Linked DNA regions of Homo sapiens. The protein of the gene in region 1 purifies or fractionates together with the protein of each later gene. This does not show direct contact. Each region holds a gene or a part of one and is shown on either strand. Other genes may lie near its edges.

The links.
Region 2: the proteins of HACD1 (region 1) and SEMG1 purify together in Homo sapiens (affinity purification with mass spectrometry; 3 studies listed by BioGRID and IntAct, with this or other methods). This does not show direct contact.
Region 3: the proteins of HACD1 (region 1) and SEMG2 purify together in Homo sapiens (affinity purification with mass spectrometry; 3 studies listed by BioGRID and IntAct, with this or other methods). This does not show direct contact.

The regions. Positions count from the first base shown.
Region 1 is NC_000010.11:17,607,347-17,614,453, forward strand, and holds part of HACD1 (very-long-chain (3R)-3-hydroxyacyl-CoA dehydratase 1), read right to left. Parts: intron 1-7,107.
Region 2 is NC_000020.11:45,202,056-45,210,063, reverse strand, and holds SEMG1 (semenogelin-1 preproprotein), read right to left. Parts: upstream 3,032-8,008; 5' UTR 3,011-3,031; coding exon 2,935-3,010; intron 2,691-2,934; coding exon 1,378-2,690; 3' UTR 1,334-1,377; intron 464-1,333; 3' UTR 296-463; downstream 1-295. UniProt on the Homo sapiens protein: Predominant protein in semen. It participates in the formation of a gel matrix entrapping the accessory gland secretions and ejaculated spermatozoa.
Region 3 is NC_000020.11:45,216,567-45,224,372, reverse strand, and holds the start of SEMG2 (semenogelin-2 precursor), read right to left. Parts: upstream 3,001-7,806; 5' UTR 2,984-3,000; coding exon 2,908-2,983; intron 2,665-2,907; coding exon 992-2,664; 3' UTR 948-991; intron 83-947; 3' UTR 1-82. UniProt on the Homo sapiens protein: Participates in the formation of a gel matrix (sperm coagulum) entrapping the accessory gland secretions and ejaculated spermatozoa.

The DNA.
Region 1 (7,107 bases):
ACTGAACTGGACTGATCCTACAGCACTCATCGGAATCATGCTTTAGGTACCTTCCACAACTAAAGTATTATGATTTCATTATCTTCAATTCAAAGTCCCCATATTTCTTCTACTAAGAAAACAAAAAGTTTATTAAGATATTTTCATTCACATTTTCCATACACTTGTCTTTTTTAGGTGAACCCAAATCAGATGTCCACAAAAGATAAGTTTGAGAGGCAGTTATTAACCTACCAATCAAAGGAGTCATTTGGATGGCAAGTTTTCTACATTTTTAAACAGCATTGTATAAAAATCCATGCATCGTTAACATTATAACAAGTTCTACTGTTGCTCCATAGGTGGCAGTATTGTACCACCTAGCATAGTATCATGATCGTGCCACTCACTAAACTGTGGGAAATAAAAGAAATTGACAGGCTCAGGGATTTGAAAGGACCCATCGAAACATCTATTCTAACCTCTTGTCTGTTTTTCCTAAGTAAGGCCAGGAGCCAATTGAATCAGGGTTCACTTCCTAAGCCCTCCATCAGAAAGGGTGACAGTCAAAGAAAGTCTCTTTAAGGGTCCTATATTGAACTAGTTTTGAACTTCCTTCATCTATCGGTTTAGTAACTATAATAAAACAAACAGAAAATATTTCAAAAGCAACTGGAATTTCTGCAATTAGGATTTTTTTTTTTAGACAGATTCTCGCTCTGTCCCGCAGGCTGGAGTGAGTGGTGTGCCCATGGCTCATGGCAGCCTTGGGTTCCCAGGCTTCAGCAATCTTCCCACCTCAGCCTCTCGAGTAGCTGGGACCACAGGGGTGTACCACCATACCTGGCTCATTATTGTTCTTGCTGTTGTGGGGTTTTTTTTAGTAGAGATGGGGTCTCCCTATGTTGCCCAGGCTAATCTTGAACTCCTGGGCTCAAGCCATCTGCCTGCCTCAGTCTCCCAAAGTAATGGGATTACCGGTGTGAGCCACTGCGCCTGGCCAGACTCTCTCTTTTGTGATGCTAGCAGTTACTGATGATCATTGGCTAGATCCATTATTTCAACAATCATTGAAAAACAATATTCTAGCTTGCTATTTCCTTTGTATACCTCCTTTAGCCATTTGGAGGCTTGGACCGAAGATAGTCTTCAACTTTCATATACTCCACACTTTGTCTCCTTTTTTTTTGAAATGGAGTCTTGCTCTGTCACCCAGTCTGGTGTGATTTCAGCTCACTGCAACCTCAACCTCCCAGGTTCCAGTGATTCTCGTGCCTTAGCCTCCCAAGTGGCTGGGATTACAGGTACCTGCCACCATACCCAGCTAATTTTTGTATTTTTAGTAGAGATGGGGTTTCAACATGTTGGCCAGGCTGGTCTCGAACTCCTGACCTCAAGCGATCTGCCTGCCTCAGCCTCCCAAAGTACTGGGGTTACAGACGTGAGCCGCCACGTCTGGCCCATACTTTCATATATTGTTCATTGACACCTCTAAACTGCCTTTTCTAGATAAAAGTTATACTTTTGTTTAGCAGCCAATATGTGAGTGCTTCAACTGATTGTACACCAGCACTCATGCCAATAACGAGTCAAGCTGAAAGATTCATAAAAGAAAAAACAAACGCTTGAGAAACTGAATTTCACTAAGATTAAGACACCTGCTCTTTGAAAGGCACTGTTAAGAGAATAAAAAATCAAGCCCAAACTGGAAGAAAATATTTGCAAATCACATATCTGGTAAAGCACTTGTGTCCAGATTGTATAAAGAACTTTCAAAACCCTATAATAGGAAATCAAACAGCCCATTAAAGAAAAAAAATGTGCAAAAGGTTTTTTTTTTTTTTTTTGAGACAGAGTCTTGCTCTGTCACCCAGGCTGAAGTGCAGTGGCGCGATCTCGGCTCACTGCAAGCTCCACCTCCGGGTTCATACCATTCTCCTGCCTCAGCCTCCGTAGTAGCTGAGACTATAGGCGCCCGCCACCACGCCCGGCTAATTTGTTGTATTTTTAATAGAAATGGGGTTTCACCGTGTTAGCCAGAATGGTCTCGATCTCCTGACCTCATGATCCACTCGCCTCGCCCTCCTAAAGTGCTGGGATTACAAGTGTGAGCCACCGTGCCCAGCTAAAAATGGGCAAAAGATTTGAACAGATACCCAAGAAGATATATGATTGGCAAGTGAAGCACATGAAAAGATACTCAGTATCGTTAGCTACTAGGGAAAACAAAATCAAAATCCCAATGAGATAACAGAATGTACTTCTCGGAATGTCTAAAATTACAATGACTGACCACACCAAGGGTTGGCAAGGATGTGCACCAATGGGAAGTCCCATTCATTGCGAGAGGGAAGATAAAAGGGTATAACCACTTTGGAAACCAGTTTGGCGGTTTCATAAGAAATTACGCTTTGGGAGGCCAAGGCGGTTGGATCATTTGAGGTCAGGAGTTTGAGACCAGGCTGGCCAACCTGGTGAAACCCCGTCTCTACTAAAAATAGAAAAAAAATTAGCCAGGCATGGTGGTGCACGCCTGGAGTCCCAGCCACACAGGAAGCTGAGGCAGGAGAATCGTTTGAATCCGCAGGCAGAGGTTGCAGTGAGCCGAGGATGCACCACTGCACTCCAGCGTAGGTGGCACAGTGAGACTCCATCTCAAAAAAAAAAAAAAAAAAGAACGAAAGAAATTAAACACTTAACTATCCTATGACCCAGCCCCTCCACTCCTAGGTATTTACCCAAGCAAAACAAAAGCATATGTTCGTACATAGACATGTACATGCATGCTTATAGCTTGATTTGTAATAGCAAAAACTGAAGAGAGCCCAAATGTCCATCAACAAATGGATGGATGAACAATTTGTGGTAGGTCCATTTGCGGATCTGTCCTCAGCAACAAAATAGATTCTACGCAGCAATAAAAGATATGGCTCTTACTTAACATTCTGGGAAATGAACCTTGGGTTTCTTGTTCTATTAAATCATACTAAGTATACTGTGAAAATATCTTACTTTCTCTTTCTGCAAGAAGTGCAATTTTAGGCCAGGCGCAGTGGCTCACACCTGTAATCCCAGGATTTTGGGAGGCCAAGGTGGGTGGATTGCTTGGGCCCAGGAGTTCAAGACCAGCCTGGGCAACATGGCAAGACCTTGTTTCTACAAAAAATTTAAAAATTAGCCAGGTGTGGTGGCACGTGACTGTAGTCCCAGCTACTCGGGAGGCTGAGGTGGGAGGATCACTTGAGCCTGGGAGGCTGAGCAGTGAGCTGAGCTGGTGCTACTGCACTCCAGAGCCAGACTCTGTCTCAAAAAAAAAAAAAAGTACAATTTTAAATAAACCACTAGGAATAAAAATGAACATTTGTAAACATCCACTGTGCATCAGGCATCCTGCTAAGAACTTCATATCCATTATCTCTTTATTCCTTTATAATCTAGCTAAGTAGTTGTGCTGTTCCAACTTTACAGATGAGAAAACTAAGAGTCAGAGAGGTTAAGTAGCTTATCTGAGGTTACCCAGCTACAAAGGAATGAGACACAACCTTTAAACAACACCTTTGTGTATTGTGTACAGACTAAAATCCAAACATGTTAGCAAAGCATCTGAGGCCCAGTGCAATGCCCCAAGCTACCTGTCCGCCTTCATTTCCCACTCTACACTTCAGGTCCTCTTCTTTTTTTTTTTTTTTTTTTTTGAGACAGTCTCGCTCTGTTGCCCAGGCTGGAGTGCAGTGGCATGGTCTCGGATCACTGCAACCTCTGCCTCCCGGGTTCAAGAGATTCTCCTGCCTCAGTCTCCCGAGTAGCTGGGACTACAGGTGCACGCCACCACACCCAGCTAATTTTTTGTATTTTTAGTAGAGACAGGGTTTCACTGTGTTAGCCAGGATGGTCTCGATCTCCTGACCTCGTGATCCGCCTGCTTCAGCCTCAAGTGCTGGGATTACAGGCATGAGCCACCGCGCCCGGCCCAAGCCCTCTTCTTGATGCCTCAACAGATGTCTTGCAATTTCAGATCTCTGTCCTCTAACTCATGCTGTTTCCCCACTTATGCCTACTTAAGTCCTTCACCGCTCAGTTTAAATGCTGTGATCTCTCACAGAAAACTTTCTCTAATTCTCCCTACCTGTCTGTCCTCTGACACATCTGCTTAGCACTTATCTCATTATTTTATTGCAATTGTTGTTTATATATTAATGCCCCAGGTTACCCTGCTTCAAGGACAGGGCCTAAAGTATTTGAAGGACAATGCATTTATATATACGGGCACAAAAGTATTTGTCAGAAAGAAAGAGAGAGGGAGGGAGAGAAATGCTCACTTCCCTATTATGAGCAAGTGCCATAAAAATCCTTACATCTGGCCAGGTGTGGTGGCTCACGCCTATAATCCCAGCACTTTGGGAGGCCGAGGCAGGCAGATCACGAGGTTAGGAGATCGAGACCATCCTGGCTAACACGGTGAAACCCCGTCTCTACTAAAAATACAAAAAAATTAGCCAGGCGTGGTGGGGGGTGCCTGTAGTCCCAGCTACTCGGGAGGCTGAGGCAGGAGAATGGCATGAACCCGGGAGGCGGAGCTTGCAGTGAGCTGAGATCGCACCACTGCACTCCAGCCTGGGTGACAGAGCGAGACTCTGTCTTGAAAAAAAAAAAAATCCTTACATCTGCCAGGCATGGTAGCACTCACCTGTAATCCCAGCTACTCATGAGGCTAATGCAGGAAGTCACTTGAGCCCAGGAGTTTGACGCCAGCCTAGGCAACAAAGCTAAACTCCATCTCAAAAAAAAAAAAAAAAAAAAAAAAACCCTAAAAAATCCTTACATCCTTTAAAGGTGTAATTCTTCTTCCAGGAATTTATTACACTAAGCCACGAATTGAACAGAAACAAATAAAAGCAAAATGTCGTTAGGCGCATGATTTAATCCATTATTGTATAATTAATTCTATACACTCAAATGTAACTGTCAAAAAGTATAATTATGAAAAACAGATGAAAACCTGACAGACTATTAAGTGAAAATGGAAAAATATACAATACAGCAGATATTATAACAGCAATGCTGTAATACATTCACTCATTCATTCATTCAAATATTTATTGAGTACTTCTTGGAGTTTACACTCTAATGGAGATGACAGACAATAAGCATTGCGAATAAGTAAAATATATTGTACAATCATATGAAAGAAAGTGGGATGGAGAAAAATAAACAGGCAAGGGAGATAAGGAGTATGTGTTTCACTATTCAAATTAAGATGACCAGGTAAGGCCTCCTTGAGAATGAAGTTTTGAGTAAAAACTTGGAAGAGGGGGCCGGGCGCGGTGGCTCATGCCTGTAATCCCAGCACTTTGGGAGGGCGAGGCGGGCGGATCACGATGTCAGGAGATCAAGACCAACCTGGCCAACACGGTGAAATCCCGTATCTACTAAAAATCCAAAAAAAATTAGCCGGGCGTGGTGGCGGGCGCCAGTAGTCCCAGCTACTCAGGAGACTGAGGCAGGAGAATGGCGAGAATCCGGGAGGCGGAACTTGCAGTGAGCCGAGATCTCCCCACTGCACTCCAGCTGGGTGATAGAGCAAGACTCCGTCTCAAAAAAAAAAAAACAAAAACAAAAACAAAAAAACTTGGAAGAGGTCAAATATTCATATGAAAGATAAAAAGAAAATGAAAGTGTGTGATAGGCTGATAAAATAACAAGCTGTATTTTACATTTATGTAAAATTTTATAATATTTCTTAAATACTATTCCGTTGCTTTGCAATTTGGGGTGTGTGTGTGTGTGTGTGTGTGTGTGTGTGTGTGTGTGTGTGTGTGTGTTTTGTTTTTGAGATGGGGTCTCGCTTTGCTGCCCAGGCTGGTCTTAAACTACTGGACTCAAGCAATCCTCCTGCCTCAGTCTCCTGAGTAGCTGGGATTACAGGTGCATACCACTGTTCCCCACTTGTTTTGAAAATTATTACAAAAAAATTAATAAACACGCCAAAGTTCTGTTAACAGAGAAATAAGTTAAATGAACAAAAAGAGCCTCAACTAGTCTTCTGCTGTCCACCCTATAAAACGTGTAAGTTCTTGTCCCGATTTCAACACTACAACTTCTTCAACCTTATTTACCACTATTCCCCAACAGCACCCTCCAGTTCAATCAAGAGAATACATCAGGCTTGCATATCATGCCTATTTCCAGAATTTATATCACCTGAAATGTCTACTCTCTATGTATGCAAATCTTATTCCTTCTTCAAATCTCACCGCCTCTAGAAAGCATCTGAAGAGTCAGTTACAGAGATTATTCCATTTCAATATCCCTTATTTTTGTAAATATGACAAGGAAACTTCTCAGTAGAGGCAGAAGGAGACAAGTTTAGAACAAGCCCTGATTTGCCGGGGAAGGGTCAGAGGGACAGAATGGAGAAAGCATTTAATTCTGCACCAGGTAAGGCAGGAGACCCGGAAAACTTCAAAGAGGTAGATTTGATTAGAAGTCATGGGAATAACAGGAGAACATTATACAAAAGTGAAAAACCTGAGCACAGAAGCAGAGCGCTGTGAAAATACATGGTGCTTTGAGGGACGAGTGAGTCAGAGATATCAAATGCAAGTTGACTGGAAAGGGGAATCGGGAGCAGATTGCAAAAAGCCTTGAATGGCAGATAGCCTGAATCCCTTAGATCAGGGTGGAGGTGGCAGGGAGTCACTGAAGTCTTTAAACTGGAGCTATGCATTGATGTTCATTTTTGAAATATCAGTTGGCTTTCAAGACAGAGAGTCAACTGAAAAGAGAAAGGACAGACACCCAGTTAACACAAGGCAGATATTTCAAAATGTTCACTGGCTGGGCACGGTGGCTCACACCTGTAATCCCAGCACTTTGGGAAGCCATTGTGGGAGGATCACTTGAGAACATCCTGGGCAATATAGCAAAAACCTGTCTTTACAGAAATTATTATTATTATTGTTTTATTTTTTTGTGTGAGACAGAGTGCAGACTGGAGTGCAGTGGCACGATCTCTCAGCCTCCTGGGTTCAAGCGATTATCGTGCCTCAGCCTTCCAAGCAGCTGAGATTACAGGCCTGTGCCACCATGCCCGGCTAATTTTTGTATTTTTAATAGAGACGGGGTTTT
Region 2 (8,008 bases), on another chromosome or scaffold:
AATACATTTTCTCTTGTCTTTCTGGGATATTTTTAGTTCCTGGGGTCTTATTAGTACCAGGGTCATGAAAGCCTTTAGTGTTGGCCTCAGGTGGTAGACATGTGACTGGTAGACTAACAGCACCCTATTTTTAGTGTTGGTTTCTATCAATATATCTTGAAATGTGGCTTTGATTACTATTCTCCCTAGTGCTTCAAAAATATCCCTTTATTTTCTTTCAAAACCACTTACATTAGAAATGCCCTCAACCCCTTGAGCCACTAGGAATCCAGAGAAAACAGGAGTCAAAAGCAGATGAAGCAGAAAATGATCTCTTTATTGGAAGTTTGAAGGCGCTTCAGGTTAGGAAAGCCTAATTCAAGGAAGCATGGGCAGGTGGTGTCATCCATGGACCAAGAATCTGAAACTACACGGGAGTCTGCATCTCAGAAACATCACAGAATTCACTGAGGTCAACTGACACCTAGAGAGAAAGAAGAGAATCAGTGATGTGAGTATAGTAAAAAGTGAAGGGTGGGGATGGTAGCTGGGCCCCCTGTCCCCTTCAGCTCCAACTGTACCAGCCCTCTACTACTAGGATACCAGGCCACTAGTTGCCAGCTGGGGCCACTGTTTCTACTGCTTGCCCTCTCTTCAAGTGCAGTGTTACTTACTGCAAAGAGGCAGGGAAGCACCATTACCCCTCTCAGGGCTTCAGTTTTCTTCTCCTGATGTTGTAAACACCCAATTGGCCCATGAGATCCCTCACCATCTCTTGTGTCTCCCTTTCCATCTTCTCTTTCACAACATGAACAAGGATCTTTCTACATATCTCTTTCCTGTATTCTGAGAGGGAGGACTGATAGTCTTTGGGCTTGTGGTCTCTGAAGGAGCATAGATGAACCCTAACAGGGATGCAAGAACATTCACTGGTGTGCAGAAAGAAAACATTAATGGCTGTAATCCTTTATACTATATAGGAAAGAAACTGAGGTTTACTAATCTAAAGTATAAGAACTGACAAGAGTATACCATAAACTTATAAATATGCATATGTAGTCAGTACCTGTTCAAAAAAACCTTTAGCAGGTAGGCATATACAAAAAAATATTATTGAAGAATATTCAATTAAGGATAGGAATTCTAGGACCTCATGATAGGCCAAACATCCTTCTGTGCCACTACCAGACCCTCTCCTCACCAGGGAATGGGGAGGCTCATCTTCCTACCACTTGTTATACAGCACTTCTATTGGTGCGAACAATGGTTATCAATCCCACAAAAGTCCTGGAGAGTCCCCAACAATTCTAAACAATGAGAGAGATATCTCCCCTATTTGCTAAAAAAAAATTACCTTGATATTGGTCCATCCTTTCACATGGTTACCGAATGGTAGGTTTATGTAAATAATGGGTTTCGGTCGTTGTTAAGATGTTGTGCCAAATGACGATCACTGTCATCTTCCTGCTCTATAATTACAATATCCAATCCCCCATGAGATCCATGTTGGTGTCTGCCTTTTTGTTCATGACTGAGTAGGTCTTGTTCTCTATTTGTAGATTGGCCAGACTCTCCTTTTGCATTTTCACCATGCCATGGCTCTTGCTTAGGATTTGGTGCCTGGATTTGAGACTTGCCTGCTACTAGCTTTTCAGTTTGGCTATAAATACTGCGTTGGGATACATCTTTCTGCACACCATTTTCTCCATAGTGGAGTCGTCTTTCTTCCGTACTTGAAGATTGGTATGATATTTTATTTGCCTTTTGGCTATGCTCTTGCTCTTGACTGGGAATTGTTATCTGTTTTTGAGACTTGCCCTGTGCTTTCTCTTCAGTTTGGCTATAAATACTGCTTTGGGATACATCTTTCTGCACACCATTTTCTCCATAGTGGAGTCGTCTTTCTTCTGTACTTGAAGATTGGTATGATATTTTATTTGCCTTTCGGCCATGCTGTTGATCTTGATTGAGATTTTTTGTCTGGTGTTGATTCTTGTTATATACTAGGAGCTCATCTTGGGTAGAAAAAATGTCTTTGGATCCATGTTGGAGTTTGTCTTGGTGCGCAGGACAGAGTGAGGTTTGTACTTTACTTGAATGTTCCTCTCTCACTTCAACCACATTTTGGTAATGCCCTTTATTTTGATGAGAATTTTTAGTCTCACGTTGTTGTTTGTTAGCTACTAGCTCTTCAGTTTGGAGAACATAACTGCTTTGGGATCCGCCTTGTTTTCTACCTTTTTGTGCACCAGAGACGGAAGTTTGTTCTTTACTTAGTCCATGAACCCACAGCCTTTCTTCTGTGTTTGAATATTGACTGGATATTCCCTTTCCAGATGGGCTATTCCCCTGATCTTGAGAAGGATTTTGTGTCCCACGATGAGCTTTGCCTCCTTTATGGTGTATAACTACCCTGTGAAAATGACCTTTTGATTTATCATGGTCTCTGCCTTCTTGTTTATTATGGAGCAGTTGTTGACTTCCACCTAGATGTCGTTGTGATTTTGTCGTCTTATGTAGGGCATTCAAATCATATTGCTGACTTTTTCGGGACTGGTCATGATCATTGGCATCTACATGATATGTGTATTGAATAGAAAAACTGCCTTTGGATTCAGTTTGTTGCTTGCCTTTTTGTCCAGAATAGTGCTGGCCCTTTTGTCCGTGTGGAAATTGGGAAAATTCACTTGGTAATCGGCCTTTTGATCCACCTGGTAATTGATAATAAGAAGGTATGCATTCATTATCTCCAAAGCTCCCTTACAACTCTTACCCCCCACTTTTCCCCCAACAAATTATTGATATTTCTAGAAAAGCTGAAGCTTTGGGTGGAGAAAATCAATTCTCTTCAAAGAGAAGAATCTGTGCCTAAACAGGTTACTGTTTGCACCCCAAATAATCTTAGATTATTAGCTGTCTGAGCAGCTTTCCCCAAGGCTTACCCTCTCCACTCACCTTTTTGTCCCATCACAGCTGCTTGCTTCTCCAAGATGAGGAGCAGGGAAAGTACAAAGATGATGTTGGGCTTCATCTTGCTTGGAAAACCTTGTCTGAGAGCTGAGCCGACCTTGTCATTTATATCTTCCTTGAGTGAGTGTGCCATGGGTGGAGCTTAAATTACAAAAGGCACTGACTTTTCTTAGCTTATCAGTAAATGCCAACTTCCTCACCCCTGCTGAGTGTGGGACAAAGTCAATGTCCCCAGCAACATAATGTCAAAGGCATTTTCTTTCTTCTGGCAGCCCCAGCAAATTTTTATCAGTCCTTTTAGATCATCATGCCAGATCACTTTAATTTTACAGAATTATAGACAAAAGTAGGAAAGAGACTGGCTTCAGGCTACAAAAGCAATTGGTTTCTGAGAATGCCTTTATATTCTAAATGTGAGTTTCCCTTCATGATGCAATAATTTAAATACTCTATTTTAGATAGAACTCCATACTTCCTTTTGTTTTAAAAATGATCTTGAGACACGTTCTATTTTACCTAAGAATGAGCAATCATAGAAGTCCAATGATATAGAAGATAATGAAACGTTATGGAATCCAAAGAAAGAAATTTTAAACAAGTAAATGGGGCACTCCAATGTCAAATATGTCTGTCAAGTTCAACACAATAAAGACTGACATGTATCCAAAGTTTTTCTTAGTTGTTGCTAGTAACTTTAATGAGAGATGAATACAATTGCATTGGGTTGTCAGTTGAAGGATGGAGACCAGCTGCAACCTTCTCAGGAAGTCTGAATTCATGGTGGAGTGAGAGCTGAGGCTGTATCTGGAGGGTGAGGTAAGTTCCAGATGTGTTTTCAAAGGATGAAAGAATTTTAATATGCTTTCATGGTGATAGGAACAACTGTTGGAAAAAAAGTAAAAATGCTGGTTTCTAGATTGGGTTCTTTTCATGAAATCTACCTAAACAGCAGAATTTTCTTTTTAATTAAGAGAAGTTTCTACTTCAGTAGTAAACAGCTGAATCCCCAAACAGGCTGTGAGAAATATTTGCCACCATCAATGAATTGAATAATGTATTGTGAGTGGACATGAAGCTAAAATTCCCACCTTTGGTAGAAGCATAGATTTTTCCAATTGTGATGACATCCTGAAAAGTCTGAAGAAACTTTCTTTACTTTGAGTCATAAAGACTTCGTTATGAGCAGACCACAGGAGAAGAAGAAAGCATCCCAACAGTGTCCCTGTGTACATTCAGAACACCTTGGAGGGTAGTGCTGGGGAAAGGATAGCTTGAAAACTTATTTTCAATTATTCTGTCTTAGAATCTTAACCTTCCTGTAGGCAATGCTCTATGGAAGGGGAAAAGAGAAAGGCCAACCACAGAAAAAAAGTGCTATGCTATCAAACATAAATCATGTGAGCTGCATGGTTTCTCTATGAGCCACTCTGAGATCTTACCAAATTTATCTGTTTGCCTCAAAGGCAGTAAGTAGTTCCTTATTGCAGAAACCCCAACAGAGTAAGGTGATATTGTTCTGAACTAAAATTGATTACTGTGTCTGCTAACCACTGTAATCTTCCTCACACTTCCCTTAAGAAAATACCAGAAACTGTTCTGTTCCAAACTTACTGATACAAAATAGAGTCTGAAATATTAATCTTACTTATGGATCAAGAACAAAACTTTCATCTCATCTAGTGTCCAAAAGATGCAGATAAAACAAAAGGGCACAATATTTGCAAAAACAAACCAGGAAAATGCAATCCAAGCAAAACATGTGATTACTATATTCATATTAGAATTGAATTCAATGAAATGTGGAAAAAAACATTTCCAAATGATAAAGGAATGTATTGATAAAGTTGAAATCAGAAATCAGTGATTTGGAAAGCATAAAAATGGTATGGTGATGCATACATCTTAGATATGGAATTATGATGGGGGAAAAGATTAAGTGATCAAATGATTTGTCCTGTTGGACAAATAAAAAATGCAAAAATATTAAAGTGCACTAAATTGGCACAAAAATCTGAAAGTTTTATACTCATAGGAAAAGAAGAAAACAGGAGGACTTAAATGTATTTTGCTCAATTCTATGGGAAATCACTTTACAACTTAGAAAAGATTCAAATATAGTTATTTTTGGGGAATGGGCAGAAAAACCTGGTAGAGTAGGACTCCCCAGAGATTATACCCTCCAAAACGTCGAATTTAATAATTATCCACATATGATAATAGTTTCTCAAAAGCTAAACAGGCCAGATGAGATATTACAGAACCTGATTATAGTATAATAATTAAAAATACACATTGAAGAGGGCACGAAAGACAATTTTGTTTCCTGTATCACCCCTAACCCAATCACAGGCAGCACAGTGCAGAGAGAGCTACTTTCTTTTGGGGGGAAGGGAATGAAGTAAGGCTTGGACTTTTTCACGGAACAAAATACTAGTCTATAATAGTAAAATTCAGCACTGGGAGGACACCCATAGTGACCCTGCTTGAATACCTGTGGCCTAAGCAGCAAGACCTGCCCCAGCAGCAGAGAGGAACACATAGTTCCTGTGAGATAGACTTGCGTTCTTACCTGTACCACTGGCAGCCAACTACAGCAGCCTTGGATTATGAATAACCAACATACGTAGGCAGGTATCAGTGAGGAGGAGTTGGGAATGCATTCCATCATTGTGCCAGCCTCTGCAGCCATGGGTTACAGCCTGGTGCAGAACTGGCCATGGTGGTCCTGGGTTTATGACATCTCCTTGTGCTGCAATGACTGAAACAGTCACAGGCTTACAAACCTAGAACAGATGATCTGCCTAGAATTTCCGGACAGAGTTGAGGGACATTCTCAGACAAAGCCAAACTGGAGTAAGTACCTACCTTAAATTCAATATCTGCATTCAAGTACCTACCTGCAATTCAATAAGTACCTACTTCTTCAATGTGCAGACATCAATGCACAATCACAAGGATCAAGAACAATCGGGGAAAACTGATGACACCAAATTAACAAAATAAGGTACCAAATGAACAAAATAAGATACCATTGATTGGCCCCAAAGACATGGAGATGTATGACCTGCCTGAAAGAGAATTTAAAATGGCTGTTCTAAGGAAGCTCAAAGAACTTTAATAAAATACAGATAAATAATTAAATGAAATGATGAAAACAATAAGTGACCAGAAAGAGAGATGTAACAAAGGGTAAAAATGATAACATTTAATATCTAATGTTAATATAGGAGCTGAAGAATGCAATGAATAAAATGAAAAGTGTGAAAAGTGCAATAGAGTGCATTAACACCAGAAATGATCAAGCAGAAGGAATAATCTGTGAGCTTGAATACAGGTTATTTGACAATATATACTCAGAAAAGGAAAAAAGAAAAAAGAATAGAATGAAGGAAACTTATGAGATGTATGGAATAGCATTAAGTGAGCAAAGGGACAATTTACTGGCATTCAAGAGAAGTTAGAGAAAGATAAATGGAAAAGTAAAGAAAGCTTATTAAATAAGTAATAACAGAAAACTTTCCAAATCTGAGGAGTTCATATATATATATATATATATATATATATATATATATATACACACACACACACACACACATATATACACCCATATATATACATATACATATATACATATATATTATATATATATGTATGTGTCTATTATATATATATATATGTAGTCAAAGTGCAGGATGGTCAACAGTCACCAATCACATTCAATTCAAAAAAGACTAGACATATAATAATTAAACTGTGAAAGATCAAAGACAAATAAATGATACTGAAGCAGCAAAAGAAAAGAAGCAAATAAAATGCAAAACAGTTCCAATACACTTCACATCAGACCTTTTTTTTCTTTTTCAACTGTTATTTTACATTCAGGGGCCAAGTGTGCAAATTTGTTACCTGGGTATATTGCATGATGCTGAAGCTCGGGGTATGAATTTTCCTGTCATTCTGATACTGACTATAATACCCAACATTTAGTTTTTCAACCCTTGTCCCCTTCCCTCCCTCCTTCTCTCCTCTAGTAGTCTTCAGTGTGTATTATTTCCATCTTTATGTTCATGAGTATCTGACATTTAGCTCCCCTCTATAACTGAGAACATGTGGTATATAGTTTTCTCTTCCTGCATTAATCTACTTAGGATAATGGCCTCCCACTGCATCCATGTTGCTGCAAATGCATGATTTTATTTATTTTTTATGACTGTGTAGTATTCCATGGTGTATATACACCATATTTTCTTTATCCAATCCACCATTGATGGGCACCTAAGTCGATTCCATGTTTTTGCTAGTATGAATAGTGCTGCAATCAAATCATATTTCTCAAAGGGAACATTAAAGATCAGAGGAGAGTGGAATAATATTATCAAAGTAATGAAAAAAAAGAAAACCATCCAAGCATACTATACTCAGCAAAGCTGTTCTTCAGAAATGACAGAGAAATGAAAACTTTCCTAGACATACAAAGGTGAGGAAGTATGTCACCATCAGACCTATTTTACAAGAAATGCTAAAGGAGTTCTTCAAGGTGAAAGAAAAGGATGCTAATGAGTAATACAAAATAATCTAAAAGTGTAGAACTCACTAATAAAATTAATTACACAGTCAAAATTCAGAATACTGTGATACTATAATGGTGATGTATAAATCACTTCTATCTTTAGTATGAAGGCTAAAAGATAAAACTTGAAATTAATAATAACTACAATAAATTGTTAATGTATATGGCACATAAAAGCTGTTAATTGTGACATGAAAATATCAAAATGCGGGGAGGGAAGTGGTGGTAAGGTGTAGTTTTATGTTTTGTAATCAAACAAATTATTATCAGGTTAAAATCACTTGTGATAGCTACAGGATTTTTTTTAAAGGCCTCATGTTAGCCACAAAGACAACATTTTTAATAGACGCCCTAAAAATAAAAAATAAGTATCAAAATATACTACTAGAGAAACTAACTTAATCATAGTGGAAGGCAATAAGAGAGAAAGAAAGAAAGAAAGAAAGAATCACCAAAGCAACTAGAAAACAATGAAAAAGTGGCAGTAGT
Region 3 (7,806 bases), on another chromosome or scaffold:
TCATCCATGGACCAAGGATCTGGGACCACATGGGAGTCTGCCTCTCAGAAACATCAAAGACTTCACTGAGGTCGGGTGACACCTAGGGAGAAAAAAGACAACCAGATATGTGAGGATAGTGGAGAGTGGGGGTGAGGATGGGAGAGCTGGGACCCCTGTCCCCTTTAGCGTCAACTGCACCAGCCCCCTGATCATTAGGACACCAGGTCACTAGTTATCAGCTGGGACCATTGTTTCTGCTGCTTACCCTCTCTTCAGGTACAGTGTTACTTATTGCAAAGGGGCATGGAAGAACCATTTCCCCAATCCAGGTTAAAATTTTCCTCTCCTGACATTGCAAGTGTCCAGTTAGCACCTGAGATCTCTCAGCATCTCCTGCACCTCCATTTCCACTTCCTTTTTCACAATCTGAACAGGAATCCTTCTTTCTACTCATATCTTTCCTATATTCAGAGAGAGTGGACTGCTAGTCTTTGGGCTTGTGGTCTCTGAAGGAGCATAGATGAACTCTAACAGGGATGCAAGAACATTCATGTATGTGCAGAAAGAAAATATTAACTGCTGTAATATTTCATACTATATGAGAAAGAATTTGAGGTTTACTAATCTAAAGTATAAGAATTGACAAGAGTATACCATAAACTCATAAATATGCATATATAGTCAGTGCATGTTCAAAAAAATCTTTAGCAGGTAGGCATGTATAAAAATATTATTGAAGAATACTCAATTAAGAATAGGAATTCTAGGACCCAGTGATAGTCCAAGCAGCCTTCCCTGCCACTACCAGGTCCTCTACTCGCCAGGAAATGGTGTTCATCTTCCCACCACTTGTAATATAGCACTTCTATTGATGTGAACAATGGTTATCAGTCCTACCATGTTCCTGGAGAGTCCCCAACTTTGGGACAGGCACCTCTCCTATTTGGTAAGAAAAGCAAACTTACCTTGCTATTGGTCCAGCTTTTCAAGTGGTTGCTAAGCAACAGGGCTATGTAGATATTGGATTTCTGTCTTCATTATATTGTTGTGTCAAATGATCATCTTGGGCAACCTCATGCTCAGTAATTACAATATTATGTGACTCACTGGATTCCTGTTTGTATCTGCCTTTTTGTTCATGACTGAGTAGGTCTTGTTTGCTATCTGCAGATTGACCAGACTTTCCTTTTGCATTTTGGCCAGACCATTGATCTTGATTAGGATTTGGTGTCTGGATTTGAGACTTGCCTTCTACTAGCTTTTCAATTTGGAAAGAAATACTGCTTTGGGATACATCTTTCTGCGTGCTCTTTCCTCCATAGTTGAGTCGTCTTTCTTCTGTACTTGAAGATTGGTATGACATTTTATTTTCCTTATGGCCATGCTCTTGATCTTGACTAGGAATTGTTACCTGGTTTTGAGACTTGCCATGTATTTTCTCTTCAGTTTGGATAGAAATACTGCCTTTGGATACACCTTTCTGTACATCCTTTTCTCCACTGTTGAGACGTCTTTCTTCTGTACTCGAAGATTGGTATGATATTTTATTTTCCTTATGGCCATACTCTTGAGCTTGACTAGGAATTCTTACCTGGTTTTGAGACTTGCCATGTATTTGCTCTTCAGTTTGGATCGAAATACTGCCTTTGGATACACCTTTCTGGATGCCCTTTTCTCCACAGTTGAGATGTCTTTCTTCTGTACTTGAAGATTGGTATGATATTTTATTTTCCTTATGGCCATGCTCTTGATCTTGACTATGAATTGTTACCTGGTTTTGAGACTTGCCATGTATTTTCTCTTCAGTTTGGATAGAAATGCTGCCTTTGGATACATCTTTCTGTACACTCTTTTCTCCATGGTGAAGTTGTCTTTCTTCTGTACGTGAAGACGGGTATGATATTTTATGTGCCTTCCGGCCATGCTCTTGATCTTGACTGAGATTTTTTGTCTGGTGTTGATTCTTGTTATATACTAGGAGCTCATCTTGGGTAGTAAAAATGTCTTTGGGTCCATGTTGGAGTCTGTCTTGATGTGCAGGATGGAGTGAAGTTTGTAGTTTACTTGAATGTTCCTCTCTCACGTCAACCACATTTTGGTAATGCCCTTTATTTTGATGAGAATTTTTAGTCTCACGTTGTTGTTTGTTAACTACTAGTTCTTCAGTTTGGAGAACATAACTGCTTTGGGATCCACCTTGTGTTCTACCTTTTTGTGCACCAGAGGCTGAAGCTTGTTCTTTACTTAGTCCATGAACCCATAGCCTTTTTTCTGTGTTTGAACATTGACTGGATAATCCCTTTCCAGATGGGCTATTCCCCTGATCTTGAGAAGGATTTTGTGTCCCATGATGAGCTTGGCCTCCTTTATGATGTATAACTATCATGTGAAAATGACCTTTTGATTTATCATGGTCTCTGCCTTCTTGTTTATAATTGAGCAGTTGTTGACTTCCACCTAGGTGTTGTTTTGATTTTGTCGCCTTATGTAGGGCATTCAAATCATATTGCTGACTTTTTCGGGTCCAGTCATGATCATTGATGTCTACATGATATGTGTGTTGAATAGAAAAACTGCCTTTGGATTTAGTATGTTGTTGGTCTTTTTGTCCAAAATAGTGCTGGCCCTTTTGTCCATGTGGAAATTGGGAAGATCCGCTTGGCAATTGGCCTTTTGATCCACCTGGTAATTGATAATAGAAATGTATGCATTCATTATCTCCAAAGCTCTCTTGCAACTCTTACCTCCCACCTTTTCCCAACAAATTTCTGATATTTCCAAAAGCCTACAGCGTTGGGTGGAGAAAAATCAATTCTCATCAAGGAGAAGAATCTGTGCCTGAACAGGTTACTGTTTGCACCCTGAATATCCTTAGAGGCCATTTTTTTAAAGTAGCTTTCCCCAAGGCTTACCCTCTCCACTCACCTTTTTGTCCCATCACAGCTGCTTGCTTCTCCAAGATAAGGAGCAGGGAAAGGACAAAGAGGATGATGGACTTCATCTTGCTTGAAAAATCTTGTCTGAGAACTGAGCGGATCTCTTCATTTATATGTTCCTTGAGTGGGTGTGCTATGGGTGGAGCTGAAATGTCAAAAGGCACTGCCCTTTCATAGCTTATTAGTAAATGCCAGCTTCCTCACCCCTGCTCAGTGGGGGATAATGTCAAAGTCCCCAGGGACTTAGCATGGGGACATAATATCAAAGGCAATTTTTTTTACTTTCAGAATCCCCAGCAAAATTTTATCGGTCTTTGTATATCATCATGCCAGATCGCTTGCATTATACAGAAGAAATTCAGTCCGGAGTAGGAAGGAGACTAGCTTCAGGTTACAAAAGTAATTGGTGGCTGACAATGCCTTCATACTCTAAATGCGAGTTTCCTTTCTGATCCAATAACTTAAATACTAAATTTTAGGTATAACTCTATACTTTGTCTTGTTTTAAAGTAATCCTGAGACACATTCTGTTTTACTCGAGAAGGAGCAGTCATAGAAGTAGAATGATACAGAAGAGAAAGAAACTTCATGGAAGCCAAAGAAAAAAATTTCAACAAATAAATGAGGCATACCAATGTCAAATGTATCTGTGAAGTTCATCACAAAAAAGACTAACATGTGTCAAAAACTTTCTGATGTTACTCACTGCTAGTAATGTTAACGAGAGATGAATACAGTTGTGTTGGGTTGTCAGTTGAAGGATGGAGTCCAGCTGAAACCATCTCAAGAAGTCTGATTTCATGGTGGAATGAGAGGTGAGGCTGTATCTGGAGGGTGAGGTAAGCTCCAGAGATTTTTTGAAAGGATGAGAAAAATTTAACATGTTTTTATGATGATAGGAACAACTGTTGGAAAAAGAAGTAAGAATGTTGGTTTCCAAATTGGATTATTTGATGATATTTACCTAAACAAAAATGTATTTACCAAAATACATTTTTTAAATAAAAGCATTTCATACTTCTGTAATAAACTGCTGAACCCTCCAACAGGCTGTGAGGAATATTTGCCAACTTCAGTTCATTAAATAATGTATTGAGAGTGGACCTAAAGCTAAAATTTTTACCTTGGGTGGAAGCATAGGGTTTTTTTGCTTTTGTTTTGTTTTGTTGTGTTGTGTTGTTTTGTTTTGTTTTTTTGCAATTGTGAAAACTTCTTGAAAAATCCAAGGAAGGTTTTTTGTTTGTTTGTTTGTTTGTTTTGTTTTTTTTGTTTGTTTGTTTTTGAGACAGAGTCTCGCTCTGTCGCCCAGGCTGGAGTGCAGTGGCACCATCTCGGCTCACTGCAAGCTGTGCCTCCCAGGTTCATGCCATTCTCCTGCCTCAGCTTCCCAAGTAGCTGGGACTACAGGTGCCTGCCACCACGCCCGGCTAATTTTTTGTATTTTTAGTAGAGACGGGGTTTCACCGTGTTAGCCAGGATGGTCTCAATCTCCTGACCTCGTGATCCGCCCGCCTCAGCCTCCCAAACTGCTGGGATTACAGGCATGAGCCACTGCACCCGGCCAGTTTCTTTACTTTGACTGAAAAAGTCCTTGTTATGAGAAGACAACAGGAGAAGCAGCAACATTTGAACAGTGACCCTGTATGCATTCAGAACACTGTGGAGGGTAGTTCTGGAGAAAGGACGGCTTGGAAACTTATTTTCTATTATTCTCTCTTAAAATCCTAACCTTCCTGTAAGCAATGCTATATGGAAGGGGAGAGGGGAAAGGCCAACCATAGGAAAAAATGCTACTTATGCCATCAAACTTGAAGCATGTGAGCTATGTGGTTTCTCTATGAGCCATTCTGAGATCTTACCAGTTTTATCTGTTTGCCCTAAGGGCAGTAAGTATTTCCTTATGGCAGGGACCCCAAAAGAAAAGAGTAAAGTTTTCCTGAACACAAATTTATTGCTGTACCTGCTAATCACTATAATCTTCCTTACACTTCCCTTAAGGAAATACCAGGAACTGTTGTGTTCCAAGATTACCGGAACAAACAAGAGTCTGAAATATTAATCTTACTTATGGATCAAGAACAAAACTTCCAACTAATCTAGTGTCCAAAAGATACAGATAAAACAAAGGTGCACAAGATTTGCAAAAACAAAGCAGGAAAATGCAAACTAGGCACAACATGTGATTATGATACTCATATCATGATTGGATTTAATGAAATTTGAAAAAAAAGCATTTCAAAATTAAAAATAAATCTATTGATAAAGATGAAAGCAGAAATCGGTAATTTGGAAAGCATAAACATGGTATAGTGCTGCATACATCTTAGATGTGGTATCATGATTGGGAAAATATCAAATGATAAAAAATAAACAAGGAAAAAATAGTAGAATATTTTAAAGTTCACCAAGTAGGAGACAGGTCACTGAGCTTGACACAGTTTATATGCCCCTGTGGCAGCACAGTGGCTATGTGTCCACACTGAGTACCTGAGAAATAGCCCTGTAACACTCTCTCCCTCCAGAGACACATCCATGGCCTGCTCAGTGGCCCTATACTCCCAATAAGAGCTTGAGAAACAGACTCACAAGCTCCCCTGCTGGGCTTGACACCACGCTGGCCCAGCTGCCGAGAGCCCATTTCCCAAACCTGAGAAACAGCCCATGGGCCACCCCTGGTGGGCATACCCAAGCCAGCCAAGTAGTTATGTGGTCATGTCCCAGGTCTGAGAAACAGTCCTACAGATTGCCTCTGGTGGTCACACATGAAGGACAACCAAGAAGCTCCATGCCTACACCCTAGGCCTACAGAATATCTTCTTGGGCCACCCCTTACAGAAATGCTCAAAGCCTAGCCACTCAGCCATGCAGCTGTGTCAAGTGCCTGAGAAAAAGCCCTCTTTCCTCTCTCATTCCCTTCCTCTCGTAGGCCATCCAAGCAGCCTTACACCCACATCTTGGGCCTGAGAAAAAGCCCAGTAGACTGACCCTGGCAGACATGTCTTCAGACCAGTTGAGAAGCTGTACTTCCACGTCCTGAAACCAAGAAACAGCTTCACAGGCCACCCCTAGCCTGTAGTCACACTCACTGACTGAACAAACATGTGCCCATGCTTCCAGCCAGGATAACAGCACCCTGGCCCCAATACCATTGAGTCATACCTTAATTGAATTACCTACCACGTGGATGCACACACCCCTGACCTGAGAATTAGCGCTGGAACCACAGCACTGGCAAAGCCATGCCACTGTAGCAGCACACTCTCTCAACTAGGGCGCTGAGAAACTCTCAAGTGCCACAAGTGTGGATCATAGGTGAAGAAACTCTATGGAAACAATACTGCTACATACACCTGCAACAAAAACCAACAAACTCAAATGAACTAACACCTAAAGACCCATTCATAAAAATAAGTTTTCGCTTATAAAATCTACTCCATAAAATTGGAAGAGGCAACTTTTCCATCAGACGCATAAAATAATAGCAGAAAACTTCTTGCATCTTGGGAGAGAGATAGAAATCCAGGTCCAGGAAGCTATAAGAACCCTAAATAAATTCAACCTAAACGGGTTCTCTCCAAGGCACATTTTAATTGCATTGCTAAAAGTCAAAGACAAAGAAAGATTTTTAAAAGCAGCAAGAGAAAAATGTCAAGTCACATATAAGGTAACCCCCATCTGACTAACAGAGAATTTCTCGGGAGAAACCTTACAGGCCAGGAAAGAATGGCATAATATATTCAAATTACTAAAAGAGAAAACTGTCAGCTAAGAACATTACCCTCAGCAAAGCTATCCTTCAGAAATGAAGGAGAAATAAAATCGTTCAGAGAGAATAAAAATTAAGAGAGGAGGGTGGCAGAACAAGATGGTGGAATAGAAGGCTCCAATGATCCCCCCTGCCCCCACCAAGGTCACCAATTTAACAAGTATCTGCAGAGAAAGATCACCTTTATAAGAACCAAAAAATCAGGTGAGCACTCACAGTAACTGATTTTAACTTTATATCACTGAAAGAGGCGCTGAAGGGGTAGGAAAAACACTTGTATCACTGATGCCACTCCTCCTTCATCTCCCGGTTGCAGGTATGGGGCACAGAGCATTTCTGTGCATGGGGTGAGAGAAAGCACAGCAATTATCAGTTAAAAAGTGGCGGGAATGAAGTTAAAGTATAGAGTCTTTATTAGTTTTCTTTCTCTTGTTTGTTTATGGAAGCAGTGTTAAGTTGTTGTCAGTTTAAATAATGGGTTATAAGATAGTATTTGTGAAGTGTGAGTCTTCCAACTGTGTTCCTCTTAGTCAAGATTGTACGGCTATTTGGGATCCCTTGAAATTCCAAATGAACGTTAGAACCCACTTTTCCATTTCTACAAGAAAGCCATAAAATTTTTGATAAGAATTGCATTGATTCGGGCTGGGCACGGTGGCTGTAATCCTAGCACTTTGGGAGGCCAAGACGGGTGGATTGCCTGAGCTCAGAAGTTCGAGACCAGCTTGGGCAACACGGTGAAACCCCGTCTCTAGTAAAATACAAAAAATTAGCCAAGTATGACAGCGTGCGCCTGTAATCCCAGCTACTCAGGAGGCTGAGACAGGAGAATCGCTTGAGCCTGGGAGGCCGAGGTTGCAGTGAGCTGAGATCGTGCCACTGCACTCCAGCCTGGGCGACAGAGTCAGACTCCATCTCAAAAAAAAAAAAAAAAAAAGAAAAGAAAAAGAGAGAGAATTGCAGTGATTTGATTATCACTTTGGGTAGTGTGCCATCTTAACAATATTAAGTCCTCCATTTCACAAATAAAGGATCTACATCCATTTATTTAGGTCTTTACTTTCTTGGGGAAGTGTTTTGTAGCCTTTAGTGTATAAGATTTACATGTCATGGGTAATTTAT